Regions from separate parts of the Homo sapiens genome. Here regions 2 and 3 are each linked to region 1. The links come from fine-mapping of genetic effects on gene expression. A gene starts in region 1. Each other region holds a variant in brackets. All regions are shown on one strand. Distances are from middle to middle.

Region 1 (10,320 bases):
CTGTTAAGTAAAAATTATAGACGAGCCAGTCATGGTGGCTCACCACTGCAATCCCAGCTCTTTGGGAGGCCGAGGCGAGAGGATCGCTTGAGCCCAGGAGTTCAAGACCAGCCTGGCCAACATGGCAAAACCCGTCTCTACTAAAAATACAAAAATTAGCCAGATGTGATGGTTTACACTTGTAATCCCAGCTACTTGGGAGGCTAAGGCATGAGAATTGCTTGAATCTGTGAGGTGGAGGTTGCAGTGAGCAGAGATCACGCCACAGCACTCCAGCCTGGGTGACAGAGCAAGACTCTGTCTTAAAAATTAAAAAATAAATAAATTAATTTAAAAAATAAAATTAAAAAGATGCTCCTTCTGGGTCAAATGGTCCGGGTATGGGCTGGAATTTAGCCCAGTCTTGCCTCCTTATGCAGTAAACAGCCTATCCCACCATTTGCAGTGGCACTGCAGAGTCTCTGGAAGGAGTCCCCTTGTCTAAGGTGACCTTTCATTGACCAGATACACTAGGTCATTTCTTATCTTCTGTGGTGAAGTCCCCAAAAGCCAGTGGGAACTCGACCCCTGCTGGTGTCCAGGTTTTGTCACTGTCATGAGAAGGAATTCAAGGACTAGCAGAAAAATAGTGAAAGTACTGAGATTTATTGCAAAGTGCAGAGTACACACTCAAGAAAGGGAGGTGCAGGTGTTCTCAAGACAGAGAGCTATGCCATCGGGTTTGGGGTTTCTATCTTTATGGGTTTCCTTAGCCAAGGGGCAGAATATTCATGAAGGTTCCTGGAAAAAGGTGAAGATTTCTCAGAACTGTTGCTGCCCATTTTTTTTTTTTTTTTTTTTGAGACGGAGTCTCGCTCTGTCACCCAGGCTGGAGTGTAGTGGCGCGATCTCGTCTCACTGCAAGCTCCGCCTCCCGGGTTCACGCCATTCTCCTGCCTCAGCCTCCCGAGTAGCTGGGACTACAGGCGCCTGCCACCACGCCCGGCTAATGTTTTGTATTTTTAGTAGAGACGGGGTTTCACCATTCACAGGATGGTCTCGATCTCCTGACCTTGTGATCCCCCCACCTCGGCCTCCCAAAGTGCTGGGATTACAGGCATGAGCCACCGCGCCCAGCCTTGTTGCCGCCCATTTTTACACCAAATATGGGTGTTCCTGGGACTGTCCAGGTGCTGGTGGGTGTATGATTTGGTATGTTAATGAGCGTATAATGAGGTCCTAGGAGAAACCTAGGTCAAATTCAGCCCCAGATTGGGTCCAGTCGAACTTAGCCAGCTTGGCCTATACTCTGATTTTTCAGGGTTTTATCAACCCCTAGCTTATGCATCCATTTCAAAAGTTGCCTTTTATTAGTCATATGAATCTGCTGCCTAGAATTTTCCTTTTTTTTTTTTTTGAGACTGAGTCTTACTCTTTTGCCCAGGCTAGAGTGCACTGGCATGATCTCGGCTCACTGCAACCTCCGTCTCCCAGATTCAAGTGATTCTCTTGCCTCGCCCCACTAGTAGCTGGGATTACGGGCACATGCCACCATGCCCAGCTAATTTTTGTATTTTTAGTAGAGACGAGGTTTCGCTATGTTGGCCAGGCTGGCCTCGAACACCTGACCTCAGTTTATCCACCCTCCTCGGCCTCCCAAAGTGCTGGGATTACAGGCATGAACCACCGTCCCCAGCCTGCCTAGAATCTTCTATTCTCCTGCCACTGCCCTGTATTATTCTTGTGTCAACATGGGGTCCAGATATCTAAATTCTTGTGAGCAGTGAGTACATTGTAAGCTAGTTACATGTGTTAACTGATTTAATCCTCACAATAACATTATTATACTATTATTAGCTTCATTTTTTTTTTTTTTGAGACAGGGTCTCACTTTGTCACCCAGGCTAGAGTACAATGGCGTGATCACAGCTCACTGCAGCCCTCAACTCCTAGGCTCAAGCAATCCTTCTGCCTCAGCCTCTGGAGTACCTGGGACCACAGGCATGTGCCACCATGCCTGGCTAATTTTTTGAATTTTTTGTAGAGAAGAGGTCTCACTATGTTGCCCAGGCTGGTCTTAAACTTCTGGGCTCAAGCTATCCACCCACCTTGGCCGGCTAACTTCATTTTTAACATACGAGGAGTTGAACCCACAGAGTGGTTCCATTTGCTAAATTACAGGGCTAGGGATTTGAACTCGGGCCACCTGGCTTTCTTACCCAAGGTAGTGAGAGGCTCCACCTACCTTAGTTCTAGCTGAGCTGGGGTGTGTGAAGAACACCCTTGCTGCTTCTCCTTGTTTCCAGCCTGTGTTTGAATAACTACTTCTCAGAATGGAAACACTCCTTTCTTTGATATGCTAATACATTCCTTGGTCAGGGCAGCAAGGCCTGAGATCCACTCTGTTTCCTTCAGACGACTGTCTGAATCTACCCTACTGGCTCAAAACTTTCTCTCAGAGGGCAATGGCTTCACCTTTATTTCCTAGTTATTGTGGGACACCTCCCCAGGGTACATGAGTTCTGACAACAAACACCCACTCAGATCATCGGAAAATCCAAACCAGTCTAAAAATTTCAGAGGCGGGATTGTCTGATTTTTTTCTCTTTACACAATAAACTTTTGAAATGCTACAAGCAAAAAGAATTCTGGAATTTGTAGATATTTAGATGGTTTGAGGGACTGGACTGTTAGAGGAACCCTAATGTGAAGGCTTTTGTTAAGTGGAGCACCACATTTGTAATTCAAACAATCACCCCCTAGCCAGATAAAAATAACAGCTTCCATTTCCTGGCTCTTACTGCAGACTAGAAATTGCAAGGGCTTTACATCTGTCATCATCTCTCTCTAATAACACCTTTATAGAGGTATAATTCACATACTGTACTTTTAAAGTATGCAATTCAGTGTTGCTTTTTTTTTTTTTTTCTTTGGAGAAGGAGTTTCGCTCTTGTTGCCCAGGCTGGAGTGCAATGGTGTGATCTCGGCTCACTGCAACCTCCGCCTCCCAGGTTAAAGCCATTCTCTTGCCTCAGCCTCCCAAGTAGCTGGGATTACAGGTATGCACCACCATGCCCACCTAATTTTGTATTTTTAGTAGAGATGGGGTTTCTCCATGTTGGTCAGGCTGATCTCAAACTCCCGACCTCAGGTGATCCACCCGACTCAGACTCCCAAGGTGCTGGGATTACAGGTGTGAGCCACCGTGCCCGGCCGGGTTTGTTTTTGTTTTTGTTTACTGTATATTCACAAGGGTATGAAACTGTCACCACTAATTCCAGAATGTTTCCATCACCCGAAAAAGAAAACCCATGCCAATTAGCAGTCACTCCCCCATTCCTCTCCCCTCAGCCCCTGGTTAACCACTAATCTATTTTCTGTGTCTATTTGCCTATTCTGGATTGTTCCTATAAACGGAACTGTATAATATGTAGTCTTTTGTGCCTGGCTTTTTTCATTTAGCATATTACCAAGTTTCATCCACGTTGTAGCTTTATTTCCTTTTTATAACCAAATACTATTCTATTGTATGAATATGCTACATTTTATCTACTCATCAGTAGATGGACATTTGGGTTGTTTCCAGTTTTGGGGTACCATCATCTCTTTTAATCTTCATGCCACCTCTAGAAGTGTGTATTGCTGTCTTCCATTGATTGACTGAGTGAACTGTGGTTTCTTTCTTTTGTTCTCCTTTTGTTTATACAGATGGGGCCTCCCTGCATTGCCCATGCTGGAGTGCAGTGGCCATTTACAGGGGCAATCATAGTGCACTACAGCCTCTAATTCCTGGCATCAAGGGATCCTTCTGCTTCAGCCTCCCGAGTAGCTGGGTCTACAGGCATGTGCCACCATGCCCAGCTAATTTTTGTATTGCTAGTAGAGATGGGGTTTCACCATGTTGGCCAGGCTGGTCTGGAACTCCTTACCTTGTGATCCACCCGCCTCAGCCTCCCAAAGTGCTAGGATTACAGGTGTGAGCCACCACGCCCAGCCTTTATTTCTTTATTAAAATGTACTTTAACTGGCTGGTCGGGGTGGCTCACACCTGTAATCCCAGCACTTTGGAAGGCCGAAGCTGGTGGATCACGAGGTCAGGAGTTTAAGACCAGCTTGGCCAAGATGGGGAAACCCCATCTCTACTAAAACTACAAAAAAAATTAGCCAGGCACAGTGGTAGGCACCTGTAATCCCAGGTACTCGAGAGGCTGAGGCAGGAGAATCGCTTGAACCCGGGAGGCGGAGGTTGCAGTGAGCCGAAATCGCGCCACTGCACTCCAGCCTGGGCTACAGAATATCTAAAGAAAAAAAAAAAAAGAAAAAAGAAAAAGAAATAAGGTACATTTGCAGAAGTATAATCACTAACTCTGTCAGATGTTATCTTATGTGTAAAAGAGGCAAGGATTAGTGTAATTTATCCTTTAAGGAATATAGTAACTCAGGCAGGAGACATGTGGGCCCATGTGCTCTATTCTGTTTTATCTTCAAAACTCTTTCCAGTCCTGTTTCTCACATCAGAAAAGGATAGAAATTCTGTTCTTTCCAACCCCACCACGTCAATCAAATGAAAATGTCCTGAGCCATGAATCCAGCTCCTGGAGTGAAGAATCTTTGTATCAAGAAAAATTCTGGCATTATTTTATGTTCTCAGCACTCAGTGGACTCTAAGAGGTCACCTGGTCCTTTCCTCAGCCCAGAGGATTCCGGCAGAAAAGCAGTAGCTCAGAGGTTTTACTCTGCAGCCCTGACTGGATTCAAATACCCTGTCTGTGTGTTAATAGGGGCATGACTTTTGGCTCAGAGACTTTGCGACTCTCTGAGCTTCAGTTTGGTCAATATAAAATGGAATTAGTAACAGTATCAAAGTTAATGTGAGGAGTGAGTGAAGCGATGACAAGGGCCCGTCATACTGTAAACTCAAACCATGGCTTCCTATTTCCCTATTCACGGTGGATGGGGAGATGTCTCCGTGCCAAGTTGACCCCCTCCCCAACTCCGCACACGCTGGTCCTTTTCCCCTAATCATCTCCCACCGCCTCCATCCCCCACTATCCTTTCCTGGGTAACTTCTTATTCTTCAGATCTTATTTTATTTTTTGAGAATTTTTATTATTTATTTACTTATTTATTTTTGAGATGGAGTCTGCTCTGTCACCCAGGCTGGAGTGTAGTGACACGATCTCGGCTCACTGCAACCTCAGCTCCCAGGTTCAGGCGATTCTCCTACCTCAGCCTCCTGAGTAGCTGGGATTACAGGCGCGCGCCACCATGCCCGGATTTTTGTATTTTTAGTAGAGACCAGGTTTCACCACATTGGTCAGGCTGGTCTCAAATTCCTGATCTCGTGATCCGCCGGCCTCAGCCTCCCAAAGTGCTGGGATTATAGGCGTGAGCCACCGCGATTGGCCTATTTTAATTTTTTAATTTTAATTTTTTTGAGACAGTCTTGCTCTGTCGCCCTGGCTGCAGTGCAGCGTCACGATCTCGGCTCACTGCAGCCTCCGCCTCCCGGGTTCAAGCGATTCTCGTGCCTCAGCCTACTGAGTAGCTGCGATTACAGGCGCGCGCCACCACGCCCGGCTAATTTTTGTATTTTTAGTAAAGACGGGGTTTCACCACGTCGGCCAGGCTGGTCTCGAACTCCTCACCTGAAGTGATCCACCCGCCTCGGCCTCTCAAAGTGCTGGGATTACAGGCTCGTGAGCCACTGCGCCTGGCCTTCAGATCTTAAACACCACTTCCTTGGTACAGCATTCAGAGACACCTCCATATTCCTCTCCCCTTACTAAAGGTTCCTTCTTACGGCACCCTGCATTTTTCCTTCATGACTTTATCACAGTTTGTAATTGTCTATTTATTTTAATTAATCTGTCTGTGTCCATAAACTGTGAGCTCCGCCGGGACCTTGTTTGCCCTGCTCTCTGCTATGTCCTCAATATCAACAGTGGACTAGGATCACAGCAGGCTTTCATCAAATATTTATGGGAAACAGTCCAGTCCATTCCTGAACTCGGGTTCAGAAAAGGATAGCGACCTGTCCAAAATCACACAGGTTAGCGGCAGACTTGATCCCGAGTCTCCTAACTGGCAACCCAAGACTCTATCCCCGGAACTGGCAAGAATCTTCCTGAACTACCCCGATAAAATTTTGAGTGCCAAAGAAAGTCCCAGAAAGGGAGTGAGTAGAGCAGTGTGGAGAGTAGGAGGAAAGTGATTTGACTTGGCCCCTCCTCTCTTGACGTTGAGCATACTGCAAACAGACACTATACGTGGCAGGGCGGCTACAGAGTGAACCAGCGACAGGGTAGCCATTAAAAGAGGCCAGGGAGCGGACAGAGGAGTAGAGGGCAGTACTGCGCAGTAGACTGCACAGGCGCAGTCGAGGAGCTCCGCTCCTTTCTCCTCAGCCCCGCCCCGCCCCATTTCTGCCGAATCACAGAAGTTCAAGAGCGGTCAGCTGATGCTACGCTGTGCGGTCACGTGACAACGGGGGCGAAGCGCAGGCGCAAGGAGCAAGCGCAGATTGTGGGCGGCTGTGTCAGCTGACCCAAGGGGCCTTCGAGGTGCCTTAGGCCGCTTGCCTTGCTCTCAGAATCGCTGCCGCCATGGCTAGTCAGTCTCAGGGGATTCAGCAGCTGCTGCAGGCCGAGAAGCGGGCAGCCGAGAAGGTGTCCGAGGCCCGCAAAAGTGAGTTTCAGGGTGGGGCTGCCCGGCGTGGCGCGAGTCGAAGAAAGACCGCTGGGCCTCAGGTGGTGGGTAGATTAGGCCCGAAAAACTGCGGGGTGCGGGCGTGCGTATAGTCGCGGAAGGTTGTGTGTTTCGAAGCTTTGAGGAGCTGAGGCTCTGGAAGGCTTGCGGATCGCCTGGAAGCCACGATGTGAGATGGTAAATTGGGCGTGGAAACAATAATGGGTTACCGTCCTTGGGGCCTGGAGGCATGTGAAATGGGCTCTCCAAACGGAGCTCTTTGTTCTTCTTCTCTCCCACTTAACCGCTCTGGGGTGGTCAGTCTCGGTGAAGGGAGCCAGCATCCACACAGTTGCTTGGTCTAGAAACCTGGAGTCCTGCTTGCCTCTTCTCCCTCCCTCATTTAGTCAGTCGCCAAGGCTTGCGTATCTTTCACTTTTTCCCCCATGTCTACTACCAGCGTCTTAGTCCAGGACACCAGTTTCTCTAAAGGTACTGTAGTTGTCTAAATCGTTGGCGTGTGTGCGTGTGTGTGTTTCTGATATGTGGCAAGCGCAGTGTGTGTGTGTTTCTAACATGTGGCAAGCGCAGTGTGTGTGTGTGTGTGTGTGTGTGTGTGTTTCTGTCTAATATGTGGCAAGCGCAGTGCCCAGTGCATCAGTTGTCTCCCCTAACGTGGCATTCAGTGTCGCAGTGAAGGAAGCAGGTATTGGGTCAGTTAATTAATTGCAGGAGAGATGAGGGCTGGAGTGGAGAAATGTAAGGTTGCTAAAGAATTTAACAGGTGAGTTTAATCTAGACTGGGGAGTGGAAGAACCCGTTCTGGTCCCCTCCAGTCAATCCATTCTCCTCTCTGCAATCAGTCATCCTTCTAAAATGCAAATATGTGACTTCCTGCTGGTAAGGAACAAAATAAATAAATAAGTGCAGATATGATTTCCCTACCGCCTTTGTAGTCAGACGTTTAGTTCCTGCAGAAGAAAGCTCAAATTCCTTAATGAAGTTGGGGAGGCTCTTGTGGGTCAGGCCTGGTGCTTTCCTCCAGCTATACTGAATCGTTGTGGTCCCTCAGAAGCAGCATGATGTCTTTCACCTGCAGGTTTTTGCACACGCTGTTTCTTCTGACGTGAGAAGCCTTTTCCAATTCTCCTCCCCTTTGTTCTCTGACCCTTAGTCTTCCATCAGACCTCAATTTAGGAAACACTTCTTCCCGGGAAGCCTTTCCTGACTCATGCTTGTCCCCCGGACTAGGCTTGGAGTCCCTCCCAAGTGCTGATTTCTGCCACTGCCGTGCAATAACCTGTTTGTTTATATGGCTCAGTCACTAGACTAAGCTTCTGGAGAACAGAAACTATGTCTCATTTAACTTTATGTATCCAGTTTCCCGTCTGGTGAGAAAGATGCTTCTATCCCTATTTTACAGATAGTAAAAATGAGGCTCAGAGAGAAATGATTTATCCATACCCTGGGAAGCAACATAGTTGGGACTCAGAAGCCTCTTTTTCCATGCAAGGCGAAGATACTGATCTTAGTAATTCCTTGGTGTTTCTCCTAGTATAGGAGTTATTCTATCTGACATCCAACTAGATTTCAAGCATGTCTCCTCTACTTGTGCAGTTAGGGGTTGTGTGGTACTTGGAAAGCTTTCTTTGAGGGTGTTGGGAATGAGAAGAAGCCTTTTGTTCTTGCTCCGGTGACTGGAAAGTTCTTTGTTCTTCCCAGAATATTTCCAGTCATGCCCTTGATAGTGTATTTCCAGAATGACTTCTCACAGTTTGTGTTCTGATGGCTCATCAGTAACAGAAGTTGTATCTGTCGGGAGGGATAGGAGAATAGATTGGGGAAGTGCAGGAAAAAATGCTTGGAATAGGTAAGAATAATTCTGAGTGCCCTAGCCAGGTAGGATTTATGTTTTATACCTTTATCCTGTCAAGCCTGGTGCAGGGTTTTGTATATGTCAGGTAGCTGTGAATTGGTTTTAAAAAGTATTAATTTGGCTGGGCGTGGTGGCTCACGCCTGTAATCCCAGCACTTTGGGAGGCTGAGGTGGGTGGATCACCTGAGATCAAGAGTTTGAGACCAGCCTGGGCAATATGGAGAAACTCCGTGTCTACTAAAAATACAAAAGTTAGCTGGGCGTGGTGGTGTGCGCGTGTAGTCCCAGCTACTTGGGAGGCTGAGACAGGAGAAACGCTTGAACCCAGGAGGCAGAGGTTGCAGTGAGCGGAGATCTGTCCCACAGCACTCCAGCCTTGGGGACAGAGGGAGACGCCGTCTCAAAAAAAAAAAAAAACAAAAAACAAACCAAAGTATTAGTTTATGGCTTACATACTTCTCAGATTTTTTTTTTTTTTTTTGAGACAGAGTCTCACTCTGTCACTCAGGCTAGAGTGCAGTGGCACCATCTTGGCTCACTGCATCCTCCACCTCCAGAGTTCGAGATTTTGTGCCTCAGGCTCCCAAGTAGCTGGGATTACAGGTGCCTACCACCATGCCCATCTCTACTAAAAATACAAAAACATATAAATTAATACATAAATAAAAAAATAAATTTTTGTATTTTTAGTAGAGACAGTGTTTTACTATGTCGGCCGGGTTCTTCTCAAACTCTCGGCCTCCCAAAGTGCTGGGATTACAGATATGAGCGACTGCGCCTTGCCTGTCTCAGAATTGTTAATAGTTAGGAACAGAGAGGTAGTCAGAAGAACTGCAGTTTGAAAATTTGCCTTTCTTGATTTATAATTATGGTTGATTTGCCCAGTTAAGAGTTGGGAAGAGGCAGTATATAAAATGATCCCATCCAGTTTTTTTAATGAAATCATTGAGTTGGACCTTAAATTTTTTTTATTATTTTTTATTTTATTTTATATATTTTGTTTATTTATTTTTTTGAGATGGATTCTCGCTCTGTCGCCCCCAGGCAGGAGGGCAGTGGCGTGATCTCGGCTCACTACAATCTCTGCCTCCCAGGTTCAAGCGATTCTTCTGCCTCAGCCGCCCGAGTAGCTGGGACTACAGGTGCCTGCCACCATGCCCGGCTAGTTTTTGTGTTTTTAGTAGAGACAGGGTTTCACCATAGTGGCCAGGTTGGTCTCGAACTCCTGACCTTGTGATCTGCTCACCTTGGCCTCTCAAAGTGCTGGGATTACAGGCGTGAGCCAGCGCGCCCGGCGTGGACCTTAAAATTTTAAAAAAGTTTGTGTTAATGGCATATTTCATTGGAGTGAAACAAAACACTGGCTCCCATATGTAAGGCCCAAGAAGAACAAGATTTAAGAGAAATACGATTTTCTGTTTAAATATTTTTGATTTTTAGAGGCCCCTGTCAAAATTGAATGTTGAAGATGTTTGCCAAAGGCAGTAAATGGTATTATCCTGAGTTATAAATGCAGGGAGCCATGGGAGTTGGGAGGTGATGTCTTGTGAAATCATGCGGAGCTACTGCATAATGTTCAGGCCATGAGTGTTATTTATAGATTGTTGGTTTCGAAAGTATCTTTAGCTTTGAAATACAGCCCATTATAGCTGATGGGAAGATAGCATGTGAAGGATTGGGGTACAGGTGGCCGAAGCAGACAGTAGTAGGCCAGAAATAATACTGGAGTGAATGTGGACTTGCAGAAATAGTTCTTGGAGTTTTGAGAGAGAGACCTG
Region 2 (10,320 bases), 44 kb after region 1:
ACAGAAGAGGAATGCACAGGCAGTGAAGACATTCACAGGAGAAAATGAGAAACTTGCCTGGGGGAAGAGGGCAGTGGTTGTGAAAGCTTTGCAGAGGAGCAGATGCTTGATCTGGGATCTTGAATAAATAGGAATATGCTGGGTGGAGAGGAGGAAGGGCATTTTAGGAGAGGGGACTGCATATACAAGGGAAAGTCCATATGAATTCATTAGATAATGATGCAGTACCTTCAAGCATAGTGATTTGAGGCCAGGCTTCACAGACCTGTGGAACTGGATGCAGATCTAGCTCCGATGCTCACTACCTGTGTGACTTTAGGAAGGTGATTTAACCTTTCTGAGCCTCAGTTTTATCATCTGTAAATGTGGATAATATTGATCCCTATTACAAGGGGTTTTTGTTAAGATTAAATGCAATAATGCTTGAGGAACCCTGGCATTGTCTCTAGTATATAGTAAATGCTCAATACATTGTAGCTATTATTGTTATGAAGTACCTATATGTATGGGTTTTACTCTCTTCCCAAAGCCCCCAACATGATCAGGCCTTTCCTGTGCTAGCCAAGGCCAAGGAGGATTAAGGATTAATTATGAATAGGGTAGATATACTGCTAATTTTAGCCTGAAGATTTTAGAATTTACTTCTTCTTCTTTTTTTTTTTTTTTTTTCAAGATAGAGTGTTGCTCTGTTGCCCAGGCTGGAGTGCAGTGGCGCAATCTGGGCTCACTGCAACCTGTGCTTCCTGGGTTCAAGTGATTCTGATGCCTCAGCCTCCCAAGTAGCTGGAACTACAAGCATGCACCACGGCTGGCTAATTTTTGTATTTTTTAGTAGAGACGGGGTTTCACCATGTTGGCCAGGCTGGTCTCGAACTCCTGACTTCAAGTGATCCACCCGCCTCGGCCTCCCAAAGTGCTGGGATTATAGGTATGAGCCACCACGCCTGGCAGATTGGGTTTTCTTATGGGTGAACAGTTTACGTATTGTTCTACCGTGTTCCTAAATATAATTTTTTTCAATTCAATTCAATTAATTAATTAATTAATTTTTTGAGACAGAGTCTTGCTCTGTGGCCCAGGCTGGAGTACAGTGGTGTGATCTCGGCTCACTGCAACCTCTGCCTCCCGGCTTCAAGCAATTCTCCTGCCTCAGCCTCCCGAGTAGCTGGGATTACAGGCACGTGCCACCATGCCCAGCTAATTTTTGTATTTTTAGCAGGAACAGGGTTTCACCATGTTGGCCAGGCTGGTCTCAAACTCCTGATCTCGTGATCCGCCCGCCTTGACCTCCCAAAGTGCGGGGATTACAGGTGTGAGCCACCGTGCCTGGCATTCTTTTTTATTTTTATAAAAAGAGACAGGGTCTTGCTATGTTGCCCAGCCTGGTCTTGAACTCCTAGGCTCAAGCAGTCCACCTGCCTTGGTCTCCCAAAGTGCTGGGATTACAGGTGTGAGACACTGCACCTGGCCTAAATATCATTTTAATGGTTAAGTTCTGTTTTCTTAGTTCTACTCTCACGGGGCCTTTATATTCTATAGACGCTTTTGTTTGGGCAGGAAGATGTGAGTGTTCAGTCTTTTGGACAGCATTAATAGATATTGATATTGCAGTATTGATAGTGGCAACTCTATATTGAGTGCTCACTGAGGGACTGGCCCTTTGCTCAGCACTGTACATGTATTATTTAATATGTACCTTAGTTCTACAAAGTGGGTACTTTTATTATCCTTATTTTACAGAGGAAAAAACAGGCTCAGAGGAGTGGGGTTACTTGCTCCAGGTCACACAGCACATGAGTGGCAGGGCCAGAGTTTGGGCCCAGGGCTGTCTGACTCCAGGGCCTATGCCTTAACCATCAGGCTGCCCTGTGTCTGCTGCAAGGTACTGAGTCTGAGGCTGTGTGGATCCTTCTCCAGATGTCATGATGCCTGTTCTTCCCTGAGCTGAGAGCTGCACCATGTGACTTCCACCCAGTGCTCCAAGCTCCTCATTCTGCCTTTGGGACAGCCCAGAATGTGCCTAATCCCCCTTCCACATGATAGTCACATGCACTGGAAACTGGCTGTCCTGCGGCTGATTGATCTCTTTCCCTGGGTTCCAAGCAGGTCCCGGCTGACCAGTACAGGAGCTTGGCTGAGAGTGCCCTCTTGGAGCCCCAAGTGAGAAGATATATCATCTACAACTCGAGGCCTATGCGGCTGGCCTTTGCTGTGGTAAGGGGGAGGTGGCCCGCACACTGACCCTGCCCTGACAGCTTATGGCACCACCAAATTCAGCACCGTGTCTTGGAGCCTGTTGGTGTGGGTCAGGGGCTTGGGGGCTGTTGGCCCAGGTGCCTGGAAACGAGCAGTACATATGGACATTGATTTGGGATCAGAGGAAATTTATGGGAGAGAGTTGTAACCAGGTCGTTGCATAAAGGATGGGAGTCAGGGTTTACTGTGGGCAGAGCTTGGGATTGGGAGTCTGCAGATCCACCCAGGCTCTGGGCTCAATATCTGGCCTTGGCCAAGACTTTCCTCCTCTCCGGAACTTGGTTTCCCCATCTGCTCAACAGATGGGTTATTTCAGCTCTATTCATATATACATGTACATATATATGTGTGTATACACATATGTATATATATATAAAATATATGTATACATCTTCATATTGATACATATAAACACTTACATACATAAATGACAGAGCCAGGATTTGAACCCAGGCAGTCTGGTTTCAGCGTCTGTGCTTGGAACCACTGTGATTTGCTGCTGTTTTGTATGTATAAATGGTCAAATAGCACACCTGACTCCCAGGTCCCACTTCTAGGGAGAAGGGAAAAGGGTGGGAACCAGCATTGATTCATTCCCTGGTGAGTGCTGGGCTGTTACTTATGTTGCCTTGTTAACCCTTATTACAATGCCGTGAAATAGGTGTTATTATCCCCATTTTACAGATGAGGAAACTGAGACTTAGGGGAGTTATAAATTGTCCAAAGCCATATAGTGCTTGAAGGATCATTATGGTCTTTGAACTGATATTTGTCTCACTTCAGATCCACCTGCCTTTTTCTGTTTTATTTAAAATTAAGGTAAACAAGGATTAGGAGTAGCTACTAACCCTTTTTGTCTACTTTTGCTTATAAACAAGGAACATTAGCTCATTCTCACAGATCCAGGTGACTGCATCAATCTCTTACTGGTGCTGTGAGCTGTCTGAATCCAAGGAGGGTATCAGTAGTGTCTGAAAGGTGTCCCTTTGAATGGAGCTGCTTTATGCAAGGACTGAAGTTCCTGACCATGCTCTCTGTCTGGCATCTTGCAGGTTTTCTATGTGGTGGTGTGGGCCAATATCTACTCTACCAGTCAGATGTTTGCCTTGGGGAACCACTGGGCTGGCATGCTGCTCGTGACCCTGGCCGCGGTGAGCCTGACCTTGACTCTTGTGCTGGTCTTTGAAAGACACCAGAAGAAGGTGAGATGTCTGGAGATCCCTGCCACACTCTCTCCAGAAGAGCGGTGCAGGCGTGAGAATCAGATTTTTCCCTTTTGCCTCCCTCAAAGAATTTCCCTGGCCATGAAAATTCACACTAGCCCGTAAGCCCAGTGACTAAAAGAAATCAAATTGTGTATGTGATTGTTCTCTCTGCTTTTCCTGTCTAATCCCTGTGGATTGTTTTTCTGGAAGCAAGCTGTGTTTTGGGAATGTGAGAGGAGAGCAGTAATTGCCCGTATCCTGACAGTACTTTAGTTAACTGAGCCCTCTCATGCACTTCCTCTCCCTGGGTGCTCACAACAGCCCTATGAACAAGGGAGGATTACTGAACCCACCCTGCAGCACAGGGTGCCTAAAGTTGACGTCTGGGGAGAGGTAATTTACATTATTCCCTCCTGTGACGGGCAGATGCCGACCTGGTGCTCTATTGACAGTCATGTCTCTAATCCCAGCAATGACCTTTGAGGCAAGGTGGGTGGTCCGAGAGTTTAGGTAACTTGTCCTGGATCCCACTGTTAGTGACAGAGCCAGGGTTCAAACCCTGAGCCCTCTGGTTCCTGATCATGTTCCGAAAGGAGGTGGATACCTCCCAGCTTGATGTATGATTTTAATTGTTTTCTGTCTCTTCAGTGTCTGTCTTTTGATATGTACTGAGCACATCATATGTAGTAGGTCCTCTGTTAAATGCTTACACATTAACTCATTAAATCCTTCGACATTAAATCTGGGTAGAGGCTGTTACACTCACTTTGCAGTCGAGGAACCCTAGACTCAGGCTCATAGAGTAGCCCTGGCCATGCTGCTAATAAATGCCAGAGTTGGAAATCAAGGCCAGGGCCTCAGATTCCAAGCCATGTTCTTAGCCACAACGCTAGAGAAAACTGTTGGTTTTCCAAAGCTGCTGTAACAAATTACCATGAACTTATTGGATTAAAACAACACCAATTTATTATCTTCCAGTTCTGTAGGTTAGATATTTGACATAGGTCTCACTGGACTAAAATCTAGGTACAGGCAGGGCTGCTTCCTTCTGAAGGCTCTGGGGGAGAATCTGTTTTCTTGCCTGTTTAGCTCCTAGTGGTCCTCTGCATTCCTTGGCTCGTGATCCTTTTCTTCATCTTCAAAGCCAGCAATGGCAGATCCAATCTTTTTCACATCTCCTTCTCTGGCTCTTTTGCCTCCCTCTTCTACTTTTAAGGACCCTTGTGATTACATTGGGCCAGCTGGATAATCTGAGATAATCTCCTAATTTTAAGGTCAGCTGATTAACAACATAAATTTCATCGGTGGCTTTAACTCCCCTTTGCTGTGTAACAACATTTGCACTGGTTTTGGCGAATAGGATTTAGACATCTTTGGGGACCATTTCTCTGCTACCACACCTATGTTGTCTTTCCACCTACTTGGGAAGCTCTTGTTCCTCCATCCCCCGATCCCTGGCACAGTGCTGGACTCTGATCTTGCCTGACTCAGAAAGAGGGGGCAGGATGTTGGGAAATGTAAATCAGCATTTGGGGTGTGAATTCCACTTAGTGCGTGTGTTCACGAGACAAACGGGAACTATATGGTGTACTCATTCTGTAAGGATCTTTGTTGGGCTTTGCCACAAGACTGACAAAATAATGCTGCCCTTGGGGTCTGTTGAAGCTTTCATGGCCCTTGTGTTTGGCCTATAAAACAAATCGAGCTGGCTACTCCTGCAGCAAGAACTTTGTCTTGGGGAGGGGAAGAAGCAAAGTGTTTTGTTTTAGTTAGCAGGAGCAAGCAAAAAAGATTGGCACCTGACAGGTGCTTCGAGGATGTGGATGTAATTCACATGGTGGAGGGAATGCCTGCTTTGGCTCTCTGCCTCTGTCTCTTCTTTCCTCCTTTTATTCAGCTGGTATTTATGAAGCCCTTGATAGTACCAGGACATACCTTGTCAGGGCCGCACAGCCAGGAAACAGCAGAGCTGGGCT[C/T]TGGCCCAGGACTGACACTATTGAATTTACTGTTCCAACAATATATATCTATCCATCCATCCATCCATCCATCCATCCATCCATCCAAGACAGGTCTTACTCTGTGCCAGGCACAGATCCCAGAAAATGCGCAAGGCTTGTGTGCAGCATGGAGGTCTCAGGTGCATCCTGGCAATGCCATCATCACTGTCTGCTCATTTAGGAGACTCCTTATTTTCTTCCTAATAATGTCCATCATTTCATGAGCACCTATTGTATGCTGTATGCTTGGGGCTTCACGTCTATGCCCAACAACAACCTTATAAGGAGGCAGGATACCGCCGCCATTTGCTAGCTCTGCAACTTGGGGTGAGTTACTTAATCTATCAGGGCCTCAGTTTCCTCATCTAAAACATGAGATAATAATTGTAGCTCCCTCATAGGGTTATTGTGAGAATTAAATGACTTAGACACACAAAGTGTTTATAATAGTACCTGGTGTAAAGTAAATGCTTTGTAAGTATTAACTGTTATTAACTCTGTTTGCCAGTGAGGAAACGGAAGTTCAGAGAGGTTAAGTAACCAGTCCATGGCCACACAGCCCTTCTCAGGTCTTCTTTTGGGTCTCAGCTCCAGGACCTCCTCCTCCCTGGATCCCTTGTCACTCAGGACTATGCAGATCCCCTCTTCCTGACCATTGTCACTCTTACTGTTAGCATCCTCTCTGTTGTTACTTGATGTCTTTGAGAGCATCAATGTCTGGCATAACTGTCTTGTTTTCCCTTTGGCTCACTGTTAGCCTTTCTCAGGATTGGAAGATTTGGGCCGGGCATGGTGGCTCACACTTATAATCCCAGTACTTTGGGAGGCTCAGGTGGGAGGATCACTTGGGCCCAGGAGTTTGAGACCAGGCTAGGCAACATTGTGAGACTCTGTCTCTACAAAAAATAAAATCAGCGGGGTGTGGTGGCACATGCCCATAGTCCTGGGAGGCTGAGGTGGGAGGATTGCTTGAGCCTAGGAGTTCAAGGCTGCAGTGAGCTCTGATGGCAACATTATACTCCAGCCTGCCTCAAAAAAAAAAAAAAAAAAAAAAAAGATTGGCTGGTTTGTAAAGGCAGGCAAGTCCTGGCACATTGCTAGGACACATGAGAAGTTCCAAGTTCCTACAAATATTTGCGGCTAATATGGCACAGTGAAAACACAATGATTTAAGTTCACTGTCATCCTCACTGTGATATTATCAGCTGACATGTGTTAAGTGTTCAATTCTTTCAATTATTCTACATGGATTAACTCATTTCATCCTTATTATACTCCTCTGAGGTAGGGGCATTATTATCTCCATTTGGGGGTAAGGAGATGGAGGCACAGAGATGTTTAGTAATTTGCCCAAGGTTATATGGGCAGTGAGAGGTACGTTAGGAATTGAACTATTGGTGATACAGATTTCTAGAAGGAAGAAATCCACATCAAATCCAAATCCACATCCAAATCTTCTTACTACAGATCTAGGCAAAACAAAATATAATTATTCCTCAATTTTCATAGTAGAGGCATTCCTGGAAAATTCAGTGTACATTAAACTCATGCAAACAATCACGTTAAGTGGCTGGGCGTGATGGCTCATGTCTGTAATCCCAGCACTTTGGGAGGCTGAGGTGGGAGAATTGCTTGAACCTAGGAGTTTGAGACCAGCCTGGGCAACATAGTGAGACTCGATCTCTACAAAAAATTTAAAAGTTAGCTGAGTGTGGTGGCATGCATGTGTGGTCCCAGCTGCTTGGGAGGCTGAGGTAGGAAGATCTGAGCTCAGGAGGTCAAGCCTGCAGTGAGCTGTGATCGTACCACTGCATTCCAACCTGGGTGACAGAGCGAGACTAGGTCTCCAAAAAAAAAAAAAAAAAAATCACTTTAGGTATAAATGTAAACTGGAGTTAGGTTGGCTGACCAGAGAATTCTAAGTAGATTTTTTTTTATCTGCATGTATGCTCAGTGGGACATTTGGAATCCAGGCAGCCCAGGGGACAGTCTTGAACATGCAGAATGGTTTCTAATAGGACATGTCTTTCAGTGGAAGGCATGGGTTCAGAACCCCTGGCCCTCATCCACTAAGTGCCAGCACTGTCCATCCCATCCCTGTGACAACCAAAGGGTCCTCCTTGCATTTCCAAAATCTCCCTTACAGGGTGCTGCCCCTTTTGAGAACTATTATTCTTGATCAGGCTGCTCTCTTCTAACTGAGTCTGAAAGTCCTCTTGTGCTTACTTCCCCAAACCAGCATTTGGGGTCCTCTTGTCCCTCCTCTTCTCCCCCACCTGTTTAGCATCCACTCTCCCAGCTGAATGCGTGGCGTCCATTGGTTTGGGTAGGAGAGCAGGAGGCTGATTCCCAGAGCCCCACCTGAGGGCCAGGCGCTGTGTTAGGTACTTTAAAGTAGGTGCTTTCTAGATGGAGTGAGTGCTTCACTTACACAACAGATTTGATGTGTCAGCTCAAACAGATCAAACCCATTTGATCTCCCATCTTCCGCAAATATCTTATGAACCTTGACAGAGTCCCAGGCCCTGGGTTAAGTACTTTACACACAATCTCAGTGAAATCTCACTCCATTCCTAGGAGGCAGACACATTCTTTTATTCTACAACTGAAGAAAATAAGGTTCAGGGAAGGGACATACCTTGTCCAGGGCCATATAGCTAGGAAGCAGCAGAGCTGGGCTTTATCCCAGGGCTGTCTGACACTATTGAATTTACTGTTCCAACTATCCCCCATCTCATTTTATTTTTCTTCCCTTATTTTTAAGAGATAGAGTCTCACTCTGTCACCTAGGCTGGAGTGCAGTGGCACAATCATAGCTTACTATAACCTCACACTCCTGGGCTCAAGTGATCCTCTCGCCTCACCCTCCCAAGTAGTTGGGACTACAGGTGGATGCTAACATGCCTAGTTAATTTTTTTTTTTTTTTTTGAGACAGAGTCTCACTCTGTTGCCCAGGCTGGAGTGCAGTGGCGTGATCTCTGTGCACTGCAACCTCTGCCTCCTGGGTTCAAGCAATTCTCCTGTCTCAGCCTCCCGAGTAGCTGGGACTACAGGTGTGTGTCACCACGCCCAGCTAATTTTTGTATTATTAGTAGAGAAGGGGTTTCACCATGTTGGCCAGGCTGGTCTCGAACTCCTGACCTTGTGATCCACCTGCCTCGGCCTCCCAAAGTGCTGGGATTACAGGCGTGAACCACCGCGCCTGGCCCCACGTAGTTAATTTTTAAACAATTTTTTATAGAGACGGCATCTCGCTACATTGTCCAGGCTGGCCTCAAACCCCTGGCTTCAAGAAATTCTCCTGCCTTAGTCTCTCAAAACACTGGGATTACAGGCATGAGTCACTGTGACTGCCTCCACCCCCGACCATTTAATAGGGGAGGAAATGGGACAGTCCTGAGGGTGGGGATTGTCCCTTGGCATCTGGGGGTGGGATGGTGTGTTTCTACTGCCCAGAGCCTGGGAGCTCCCCAGTAGCATGGAGGTCTGGTGATGGGCCTGGCGTTTGTCTTACAGGCCAACACCAACACGGACCTGAGGCTGGCAGCTGCCAATGGAGCCCTCCTGAGACACCGGGTGCTGCTGGGGGTGACAGACACAGTGGAAGGATGCCAGAGTGTGATTCAGGTGCTGTGTCTCATAGTTACCTCTTCCTGATGGCCCAGTTTTATGTTGGGCTAATGGAGAGCAGTGGCCTCATGTTCTCCCAGCCTACACAGTGTTTGCAGTAGTCTGCTAATGAGATGGCTGTTGGCAGCCCTTTCCTTCCTCCCTGCCCTGGTGTTTCTTCCTCAAGACACCTTCTCTGTGCAGTAACCAGTGGCCTGGAACCTCCACGTGGCAGGGCTGGAAGGGAAGCACAGATAATGTCCACACCTTGCTGCTCACCTGGCATTTATTCAGCAGACGGAGCCTCCTCTGTGCTGTGCCCTCGGTTGGACACTGGCGACATTGAGGGGCCCATGCAAGGTCCCTGTCCTGGCAGAGGATGACAGGCATACAGTGAGACAGTCAACAGTAGCCTCTCTGGCCTTATAGCAAACGGACAGCCCCCAACAAGGCTGAGAGGCAAGGTACACAGGGTCCCTTTGAAGGGCTGCATGGAGCTCACCATGGCTGGGGCTATACCAGAGTGACACAGCGGGGAGAGATGAGGCCGGAGAGGCAGGTCAGATGCTGAAGGCCTTGTTTGCCTGGCTTGGTCATTCTCTTTGCCCCGAAGGTTGGGGGGAGATCTGAAAGTGACTAGTATGGCGTGGCAGGGTGGGTCAGAACACAGTTAGGCCAGATCTCCTGATCCTGGCTGAACTCTCCTGTTCCTCCATCCATGCCTGATCTGCCCAGTGGAATTGCAAAACCTCCTTGGCACCACATCTGCATTCTCACCAGTCATGGCCCCTTGCCTGGTGGGAGCCCAGAGGTAGGTGTGCACGGGGGACCTGGGAAGAGGCTCCTCATGCACCTGCCTCAGTTCCTCCACGAATGTTTATTGAGAGCCTATTGTGTACCAGGCACTGTCCCAGGGATTGAGGCTGCAGCAGAGAACACATGCAGGTCCCTATGTTTGTGGAGCCTATCACACCCAAGATGGTGTAGGTATAAGATGATCTTGCCTATCATTGGAGTGAAGCAGATGACATCACAAGATTCTCGGCAGTTCAAGTGTGACATTGTAGACTGGGAGCTCCTGGAATGTGGGGGTCCTTTTTAGCCTCGTTTATCTTTGAATCTCCTTTATCCGTTGGCACGTAGGAGTGGCTTGACATGTGTTAGATGAATGCACGGATGGATAGATGACTAAAGAATGGGCTGGGCGTGGTGGCTCACATCTGTAATCCCAGCACTTTGGGAGGCTGAGGCG
Region 3 (10,320 bases), 34 kb before region 1:
CCACAGAGAGGAATGAGGTTTGGTCCCTGTATTTGGTACAGGGATGAGAAAATAACAAAGCATAAAATAAAAAGCTGGCTTAAGCCTGACACCATATGATAATAACTACACAACTAGAGTCTAAGAATTAGGAAGAGCATCAAGGGGCTTTTGGGAACTGGCCCTAAAAGGCTGAGTGATGTTTCATTTGTAAGAATGGGAGAGAGAATTAGAAATTTTGGGCAAAGGATGTGACTTTTCAGCTCAAGGCAGGGCATTTCGAATAAAGTATTCAGAAGTAAGCCTGGAAAAGGAAGTGGAACCCTGTCTGGGGTTTTGTTCTCCAGGCAGTGGAAAGTCAGTGAAGATATTGATCTAGGAAGCACTAGGGAGAGAAGCATTCTAGCAGGATAACTTTAGAGTCACATTTACATAGACTGGAAACCAAGCAACTAGTGAAGAGACCATTGCAGCTCTCAGGCTGTTCTGAATGGTGACAGTGAGAAATGAGGGGAGGCATGGATTGCAAGGACACTATAGAGGTCAAGGACCTCAGAGATCAAGGTATGGGTTAGGGTGATGCTCTTTTACAGAGTCAGCTTAGGGAATTAGCAAGAAGCTGCTGGTATCCAAGGCCGACTATTGAATCTTTAAAACCACAGGACACCTGAACTGGCAGAGTCCTTGGAGTTCATGATTTAAGTGGAAGAGACACAGTCCCCACCTATAGGAGGAATGTCAAAACTTGAATCTGGGTGGGCTCCGCAACTGCAAAATTGCAAATCTGCAATTTGGTCCACTTCTTTTCCAGCCTTCCTTCTGAATATTTTATTCAAAATACCCTCCCTTGAGCTGAAACATCACCCAGCCTTTTAGGGCCAGCTCCCAGATTCAAGGCAGTGATGCTGCACTCCAGGAAGCATCAGCTGGGGAAGCTCAATTGGGGCAGGACGATCCACTTCCAAGATGGCTCACTTCTGTGGTTGGCAAGCTGGGGCTGGCTGTCAGCTGGGAACTCATCTGGGGCAGTTGGTGGATTTCCAATAATGTATGGTGACACTGTGCCAGTTTCTGAACCCTGGCCTTGAGACACTGACAGCCTCTACCTCTCATCTCTTGGAAAATTTACTCTTAGAACACAGCTGCCATACTGTGGGGAAGCCCAGGCAGCCCTGTGGAGAAGTCCACGTGAAGAAGTATCTTCCGGCTGATTTTTTTTTTTAAACAAAAACCAGTGGAGTCCCAAATGTGGCTGTCTAGCTATAGTTTGCCACCCTCTGCTGGATGACTGTTCCCTTTAACTATTGCTATGTGATAGGCCACTAGAAAATTTGGCAGCTGCTGGGCACAGTGCCTCATGTCTGTAATCTCAGCACTTTGGGATGCTGAGGTGGGATGATTGCTTGAGTCCAGGAGCTCAAGACCAGACTGGGCAACAGAGTGAGACCCTATCTCAACAACAACAACAAAATTTAAATTAGCTGAGTGTGGTGGCATGCGTCTGTAGTCCCATCTACTCGGCTGAGGTGGGAGGATCCCTTGAGCCCAGGAAATTGAGCTGCAGTGAGCTGTGATAGCGCTACCGCACTCCAGCCTGGCTTACAGAGAAGAGAGACAGAGAGAGAGAGAGAGAGAGAGAGAAGGGAGGAAGGGAGGAAAGGAGGAGGGAAGGAAGGAAGGAAGGAAAGAAAGAAGAAGGAAATGTAGCAGCTTAAAATGACAGTTTTAACAGTCCTTGCCATGGTCAGGAAAAAAGAATAACAAAAATACAAATAAAAACAAAAAGCAAAAAAACCCAACAGCAATCATTTACTTTGCCCATGAACTGCCTATTTCTATTTATTTGAACACAGCAGTGCCCACTTGCTCATGTACTGTCTTTGGCTGCTTTTGGGCAGCAGTGGTGGAGTTGAATGTTCATGACCGAGACCATATGGCCCACAAAGCTTAACATATTCACTATCTGGCAATTTACAGAAAACGTTTGCTGACCCTCATCCAGTGCATTAGAAAGAGGCCGAAGGAGAAGAAAGCACTTGCTCAAAGGCTGCACACAAGTCTACACATAGAATCCAGACAGAAACTCAGAATTCTCTAATCCCAGTCTTGTGCTATTTACCCCATCTAGTAAGACTTATTAACCACCTCTGTAAATCTGCAAGTTTAAAGATGATAGAGGTCACAGCTCCTGCCTGAGAGAGGATACATAACCAGCAGGGAAGACATGCAGATAAAGAAATGACCACCTAGAAAAATCTGTAATAGAAGTGAGCTCAGCACATGACAGAAACAAGAGCAAGTGCTTTTCACTCCTGCCGCAGTGGCTGGGAAGAGCTCCTGCGTGCCTTCCCAGCATCTCGCCTCCTTCTAATAACAGCATCCTAATTCTCCCTGAAGAAGCCACTCTGTCATGTCAGTTTCTGCGGTCTGAGTGAGGCACACCTCATGGTTCGGCTCCAGGCCTGGCCACTGTGCTCTGTTCAGGGATGTCCAGATGTCACAAGCCTGCCCCTGAGAGTCCACCCTCAGACTTTGGCTGGCTCTTCTGGGACAAAGAAGAATTCTTTCCCTGCAGTAGCTAAGCCGGAACCATTGGTGGCCACCTGTGTTGCCACTTTGTGAGGGCCTGGCCAAGACGGAAGTTCTCACAGAGGAAAGCAGAACCAGGGGCTGCAGAGAGACTCTGTAAGACACAGAGTCACTCTGAGCTCTTCCATGACGCCAGTAAATCTCCTTTTCTCCTTCAACCGCCAAGAGTTGGGACTCTGTCATTGTAACTCAACAGTTCCAACCAACATTGTTCTTTTCCTAGCAACCGCCACCCAACTCACTTGTGAATCTTTCCCTCCTCCAATCCCATCTCGGCTGCCTGCTTTCTGCATCAGCATCCTCCATTTAGGAATGCAAATTTCAGAAACCTATCATGCCTGAGGCACGCCTGAAAGGAGTGGAGCCAAGTCTGATAATGAATTTGTGTGCACTGTGTGAGCCGTTCTGCAGCTATTCAAAATCCATTCAATGTTTTTCTCTAGCGATTGTAAGTACACTGTTCTTGGTATTGCCTCTGTCACCAGCTAAATGATGGAGATATTTCCACTCAGGATCTCGATAGACTTGTGGCTCTGGCAACAGATGTGTGTGAACTGATGCACTTGGAACACCTGGAAGCAGGAGGTCGGCTGCTCTTGGAGGACCTGCTGAAGTCTGGACCCCATTGTTCTTCTTTTCTTTTCTGTTCTTTTCCTTTCTTTTGAGGTGGGGGCTGCCTCCTGGAATGGGCATCTCCACTGTGGCCAGGGGGCAACTGGGAAAGAGGTGGTCAGCAGCACCTTGACCTTGAGTGGGCCCAGATCTTAGATCTCCAGCCCCTGCTACTTTATTTCTCCTTCTCCCTCTTCTACAGAGATGGGGTCTCACTATGTTGTCCAGGCTAGAGTGCAGTGGCTATTCACAGGCACAATCTCTGCTGCTTTAGAATGTCCTGGAGAGCTTTCTGAAAGTCCAAGTTCCAGTCTCTATCCCTGCAAGACTCTGAATCAGTAGGTCTGGGGAAAGCAATTCTGATTTTACAAAGCTCCACATTTCTTTTTAAAAAAATATCGATGGGGTCTCACTATGTTGCCCAGGCTGGTCTCAAACTCCTAGGCTCAAGCAATCCTCCTGCCTCAGCCTCCCAAAGTGCTGGGACTACAGGTGTGAGCCTGGCCAAAGCTCTTCACTTCTAAAGGGCAGCCATGCTGCAGAATCCCATCAGCATGAAATGTCCAGAGGCCAGTGTCCTTCCTTTTCCAAGGGGCCCTCTCGTTTGTCCCCCAAGGCACCTCTCCTCCTAGTCTCTAAGGCCCCTCACTGGGACCCTTCCCCTCCATGGCTTGCCTAGGGTTACCTTTGTGGAGTCAGAGGTTGTTAGGGAGGAATATGTAGAACCACTGACCTAGTGCAACCCCTTAACTTTCTATTAAGGAAACCAACGGAGGACCAGGGAGGCCAAATGAGTTTCCCAAGATCACATAACAAATCCAGGGCTTACCGACCAGGGTGCACACCTTGGGAGCTGGAAAACTGTCCCGGGCCTGCTCTCACACAACAATGTGTGGGTTGTTTTTTGTTTGTTTGTTTGTTTTTGTATTTTTTAAATTTCATTAATTATTATTATTATTTTTTTTTTTTGAGACAGGGTCTTGCTTTGTTGCCTGGGCTAGAGTGCAGTGGTCCAACCACACAGCTCACAGCAGCCTCAGCCTTCCAGGCTCAAGCAATCCCTCCCCCTTCAGCCTCCCAAGTAGCTGGGATAATGGGCACAGGCCACCAAGTCCGGCTAATTAAAAAAAAAAAATTTTTTTTTGTAGAGATGGGGCAGAGGAGGGGGTCTCCCTGTGTTTCCCAGGCTGGTCTCAAACTCCTGGCCTCAAGCGATCCTCCCACCTTGGCCTCCCAAAGTACTGGGATTACAGGCGTAAGCCACTGCACCCAGCCTCACACACTCTGAATTATGTGGGGTGGGGTCCTAACTAACTCACTGAGCCTCCCAAGCCAAACTCAACCGCAGCTATTCTCCATCCCAAAAGTGGGAAGGAGCTGCCTATTGAGGGAGAGGTGGGCCTTCTTCCCATTCTCCATCTTCACCTACAAGCTATCCACTATGCAGGGGCTGCTTGGAGTTTTAACACTGATCCAGTAGCTCACCTGGCTCTTGCCTAAGTAAATTACCTTTCTCCCTTGGGGTTGGGGAGGTGTGGGTCTGGGTGGTGGGCACTGGCTTTACCTCCAGCTCAGCTCCTTCTCTTTGGTCCCGCCTCCCAGGGTTTTATGTGTCCATATAACCACTGACTCAGGGTCAGCTTTTTCCAGTCTAGTGC[G/A]TCAGCACAAGTGAGTGATAGAGCCTGAAGGCCATTACTCAGGGGAGGATGGTGGTGAGTCATCACGAGAGACTCCTTCCCTAGTCTGGCCACTCTGCTCCAAGCTGTGCTGGGAGACAGAGAATAATAACACCTTTTGGACTGGCCTTTTAAAAATAGAAACAATGGAGTCTGTGGCTTTAGGAGGAGAGGTCCTGGGAGTCAGAAGCTCAGTCCTGCTAGCTTGTCATTCCTTGGAGGATGCTGGCTACTACTTTGCCCACCGGTAATTGAGGGTGTTGCCCTTGGCCATTTGGGGTGGGCTTTCTGAGTCTTTTAGAGGTTGCAGAATCTTACATGTGCTATAAACCAAGGACACACCCTACCCAAAATTTATATACACATTCATGCAAAATGTGTCATGCAATCTCAGGGTTTCATGGAACCCGCTGACACCCAGTCATGGGCTCCTGGCAATGAATTCCTGATCTCTGGGCTCTATTTGTCTAATAATTCTATGAAATATGTTTCTTCCAAATTCTATACTCCCCACACCCTCCATAAAATCATTTTTTAAAACATTTTTTTGTCTTCATTTATTTAAGAAACATTTATTGAGTGCTACCCACTCCTGTGGAAAAGTCCAGTATTGCTGGGAGAGAGAAAAGAGGAAAGGCCTCCACCTGGGGTGTCTGCAAGAAGGGCACGGACATTGGAGGTGCAGATGCACTGAAGAACTGATGGGCAAGCAAGATAGATGGTCAAGGTTGGCACTCAGAGGGGTGACCGTTACCCGCCCCTCCACCCCTTTCCCCGGCTTGTTGTAAGGGCAAGATCCTTCCCTCAACTCCAGAAATGAGTCATCATGTGTCTATGCCAGCCCTGGCAATCCCATTCCCCTTTTTGAGTGTTTCCAACCCCAGTTTTGGACAAAGAGACCTAAGGGAAGTCAGTGTGCGACCCTCAATTCCTAGAAAAAAGACAGAGCCTCAGAAAGAAAAGGCTTTTGGGCTGGATTACAGGTGGCTCACACCTTTAATCCCAGCACTTTGGGAGGCCAAGGCAGGTGGATCACTTGAAGTCAGGAGTTCGAGGCTAGCCTGGCCAATGTGGTGAAACCCCATCTCTATTAAAAAAAAAAAAAAAAAAGAAAGAAGAAAAAGAAGAAAGAAAAGACTTTTGGACCATGCCTGTTCTTTCTGCTTTGGAAGGTTGGTAGCAGAGTTTATGCCTAATTGCTATCTTGTGACTTTGAGATGACAAGTGTGAACATGAAAAACTAACAGCTTAGGCGGAGCCAAAAGATAGGAAGAAACTGGGCTGTTGATCCCAGTGCTCATCACCTCTGAGCGGCCCTGCATCCTCTGGCTCCTAGTCTTCTAGGAGACATAATAAGGTCTATTTCATTTAAGCCACTATTGGATGGGTTTTGTAACTTTTAGCCAAAACCATTGGTCACTGATTCAGGTGAACAGTCCCAGAAGTACGGGGTATGCACAAAGGACTGATGGATTTCTAAGCAACAGGACCATTGTGGTGACACGTCAATCAAGTCACCCACCTGATAGTATTCCCTTCTCAGAGCATGCGTATTCTCACAAGGCTTACTGAGAAAAAATGAAATTGGTCCACACCTTTCCCAAAAAATATTAGAGGTCATTGGCCAGTGGGTAGTACGGTGTTCATCCAGGGATACCCCTTTGTCTTTTCCCTAAGGCCAAGACAGACATAGGGCTCAAACTGGGGTGTCTGCAAGAAAGGACACTGGTAGTCTGTTCCACCGTTGGACATCTGTTTAGCCAGCTGATTTGCAAAACTTCTCATCTACTACTTGAGCTGGGGAAAATACTTACGAAATGGCATGGCGGAGGCTGATCAGGTAGAGAGGGTGCCAGAAAGGTCACCTTGAATTCTTACTCCCTAGGAATTAAAAAAGATGAACTCCACACCTTCACATAAAATACACTGTGAATGGTGCCTGAGGAGGTGGGCAAACATGGTGGTCCTGTTGCACTTCAAGGGAAGAGCTGGGAAGTCCATGGCCGAGTATCACCACCTCTAATGTTGAAGGGGATGGTAATACTCAGTCTGGCATCTGTTACTAAGATCTGTCCCCAGACCATTTGTCTTCTAGAGGGGGTTACAATTAAAACTTGATGGACTGTCTCTGATTCCCATGACACCAACTAGGTGTACAACAATCCGATCCTATTCTGACATCGACTAACCAGAATTAGTGTCAGACTCCATAGGTTTAAGGGCTCAGTGCCACAAGACAGCCCTCACTTGGGACGCCAGCCATAAGTCCTGGGTTTCTGGGCTACCTGCACTTTTGTCCAATTTGGCTACAAATTCAGAAATCCCCATGGCCCATGCCTGCTTCAGGTACTATAATTTGCTAGAATGACTCACAGAACTCAGGAAAATACTATACCTACAGTTTATTATAAAGGATACGAATGAACAGCTAGATGAAGAGGGGCATAGGGTAAAGTCTGGAAGGGTCCCGAGTTCAGGAGCCTCTGTCCCTGTGGAGTCAGGGTGCACCACCCTCTCCATCCATGGATGTGTTCATCAACTCAGAAGCTCTGAAACCCTTCTGTCTCCTTTGGGGGATTTTATGGCAATTTCATTACATAGGCATGGTTGATTAAATCATTGGCTATTGGTGATTGAGCTGAAACTCCTGCCCCTGTCCCCTCCCCAGTGGGACTGGATGTTGCATCCCTGTAATCACATGATTGATTCCTCTGATGACCAGCCCCATCCTGAAGTCATCTAGGTGCCCAACAAGATTGACCTTATTCACATACACTTTCATATATGGCTGGAGACAGATAAGGACCCAAAGTCTCCTTTGAGTAACAAAAGACACTCCTTTCACTCAAAAAATGTCAAAGGATTTAGGAGCTCCTTGTCAAAAACCAGGGACAGGACAAGGACCAAATTATATATATATATATATATATATATATATATATACACACACACAATACCACAGTGTGTTTCACCAATTATTGATTAAGAAGTGTTAACTTTTGGAGTATAAATAGGGTTACTAGGACCCTTCTGAGGACGAAAAAGGATGCATAAACCAGGAGTGTCCTGGGCAAATTAGAGTGTGTGGTCCCCTTAATATAGAAATTGCTTCCCCTCTTTCAGTAGGTGCACTAACTAACACATACCTCCCCTGTTTCCCTGCCCCCCCCCCGCCCCCACTTTGCCTTTCCCATTGAATAATGAGTTCCATGATGTCATCTTGGTAAGGTTCCTTAATTTACCTTCACTTTTGGTCAGAGGTATCCAATTAAGGTGCCACAGCACACTGAACTATTAAGGTGCAGGACAGATGGAGAAATAAATCCCTTAACCCTCTGAGTAGCCTGGGTAGGGCCTGGGGCTGTCAGAGCTCTTGGCCAGTTGCCTTGGCCGAGTGGTCAACAAATGTCATCCTTTTCTTTGAGATTTGGAAGCACTGTTTTAGGCTGTTAGTAAAATCTCATTTTGACATTTATGATACAATTCTGTTTGTTCAATTATTTCACTTCAATTCCAAATGCAATTAAAACTCTTTTTCTCCTCTTTTGTGTTATGAGCTAGGAACAGGAGCTCCCTCTGGGTGGACAGAGAATGTGATGGCTTTGGCAGGCAGAGTAAGCATTGGATCTCAGCCCCTGTCCACATCTCAGCTGCGAACCCTTGTGCTAGGCACAAAACATTCATGGTCCTATGGGCACACTCCACAGAATACACACCACAGAAGATGCCATGTAAACACTGTCCCTGGAGTTGTGCAGTGCCATTACCCTGGGCTGCTTCCTCTCCTAAGAGCTGACTGTGCTGCAAATAGTCAGTTCCACTATAAGATGACTTATGTGTTCCTGAAAATCATTGTGCTATATAAAATTGTGTGATTAAAAATCACAGGGTAGGCCAGGTGTGGTGGCTCATGCCTGCCATCCCAGCACTTTGGGAGGCTGAGGCAGGTGGATCAGCTCAGGTCAGCAGTTCAAGACCAACCTGGACAACAAGATGAATCCCCATCTGTACTAAAAATACGAAATCAACCAGGCATTGTGCACACCTGTAGTCCCAGCTACTTGGGAGGCTGAGACACAAGAATCTCTTGAACCCAGGAGGCGGAGGCTGTAGTGAGCCAAGATTGTGCCACTGCACTCCAGCCTAGGCAACAGAACAAGACTCTGTCTCAAAGTAAAATAAAATAAAATAAAATAAAATAAAATAAAATAAAATAAAATAAAATCATAGGGCTTATGGAAAAATGGAGTTAAGGCACACTCAAAAGCATTGTCAGTGACACATTAAAAGAAAGTTAGGAAACTAATAAAAATGGTAGCACAGTCTCACACATATTAGATGGTTAAGAAAGACATAAACGCCATACTATTGTTTGAATGTGTCCCCCAAATTTCATGTGTTGGAAACTGAATCCCCAAATGCAGCACTGTTGAGAAGTGGCACATTTTAGAGGTGATTAGGTCATGATGGCACTGCCCTAATGAATAGATTAATGCTATTATCACGGGACTGGGTTAGTTATTGTGGGAGTGGGTTCCTGATAAAAAGGATGAGTTCAGCGCCCTTCCCTTCTTTCTCTCTCTTTTTCACTCATGTGCTCTCTTGCCCTTCAGCATTTCACCATGGCATGATGCGGCATGAAGGCCCTTGCTAGAAGCCAGTGCCATTCTCTTGGACTTCCCAGCCTCCAGAACCGTGAGCCAAATAAATTTCTGTTGATTATAAATTACCCAGTTGGTGGTATTCTGTTGTAGCAACACAAAACGGACTAAGACACACTACAATAAATGTGGCAGTTTATCTTGAATAAAACCTGAAGTTTAAAGTTCAAGAAAGAGTGACAGCTTGTGAGATACTGTGCAGTGGCAGAAGTGTTACCAGAATGGAATCCCAATCCAGACCCCAAGAGAGGGTTCTTGGACCTTGTGCAAGAAACAATTTGGGGTGAGTCCATATAGTAAAGTAAAAGCAAGTTTATTAGAGAAGTAAAGAAACAAAAGAATGGTTACTACATAAGCAGAGCAGCCCCAAGGGCTGCTGGTTGGCTGTTTTTAATCATTATTTCTTAATTATATGCTAAACAAGGGATGGATTATTCATGAGTTTTCCAGGAAAGGGGTGGGAAATTCCCGGAACTGAGGGTTCCTCCCCTTTTTAGGTCATACAGACTAACTTCCTTTTTTTTTTTTTGACATGGAGTCTCCCTCTGTCACCCAGGCTAGAGTGCAGTGGCGTGATCTCAGCTCACTGCAAGCTCCGCCTCCTAGGTTCACACCATTCTCCTGCCTCAGCCTCCTGAGTAGCTGGGACTACAGGCGCCCGCCACCACACTTGGCTAATTTTTTGTATTTTTAGTGGAGACGGGGTTTGACCGTGTTAACCAGGATGGTCTCAATCTCCTGACCTCGTGATCCACCCACCTTGGCCTCCCAAAGTGCTGGGATTACAGGCGTGAGCCACCGTG

Alleles and levels. Positions count from the first base shown, and alleles are read on the strand shown. Sizes are in standard deviations (SD) of each study's normalised expression. Not every link is listed here.
For the expression in macrophages of the gene that starts at base 6,515 in region 1, allele A in region 3 goes with a lower level than allele G (moderate effect, 0.74 SD a copy in Nedelec 2016).

The links.
Region 2: its variant is fine-mapped to the expression of ATP6V1G1 in lung (TOPMed, PIP 0.97).
Region 3: its variant is fine-mapped to the expression of ATP6V1G1 in macrophages (Nedelec 2016, PIP 0.95).

The regions. Positions count from the first base shown.
Region 1 is chr9:114,581,255-114,591,574 of GRCh38, forward strand. It overlaps ATP6V1G1 (ATPase H+ transporting V1 subunit G1), which reads left to right and starts at 6,515. Exons shown (of 3, transcript NM_004888.4): 1 at 6,515-6,666. The coding sequence starts at 6,585. RefSeq lists enhancers at 1,958-2,462, 4,974-5,793, 5,794-6,612, 6,251-6,330, 6,441-6,950.
Region 2 is chr9:114,624,793-114,635,112 of GRCh38, forward strand. TMEM268 (transmembrane protein 268) reads left to right here. Exons shown (of 9, transcript NM_153045.4): 4 at 2,107-2,214; 5 at 3,309-3,458; 6 at 8,976-9,086. Among named protein-coding and RNA genes, the nearest start is that of TMEM268, 19 kb to the left of the region's middle. The variant C/T (reference allele first, on the strand shown) is at 5,438.
Region 3 is chr9:114,547,261-114,557,580 of GRCh38, forward strand. No RefSeq gene overlaps it. Among named protein-coding and RNA genes, the nearest start is that of ATP6V1G1, 35 kb to the right of the region's middle. The variant G/A (reference allele first, on the strand shown) is at 4,839.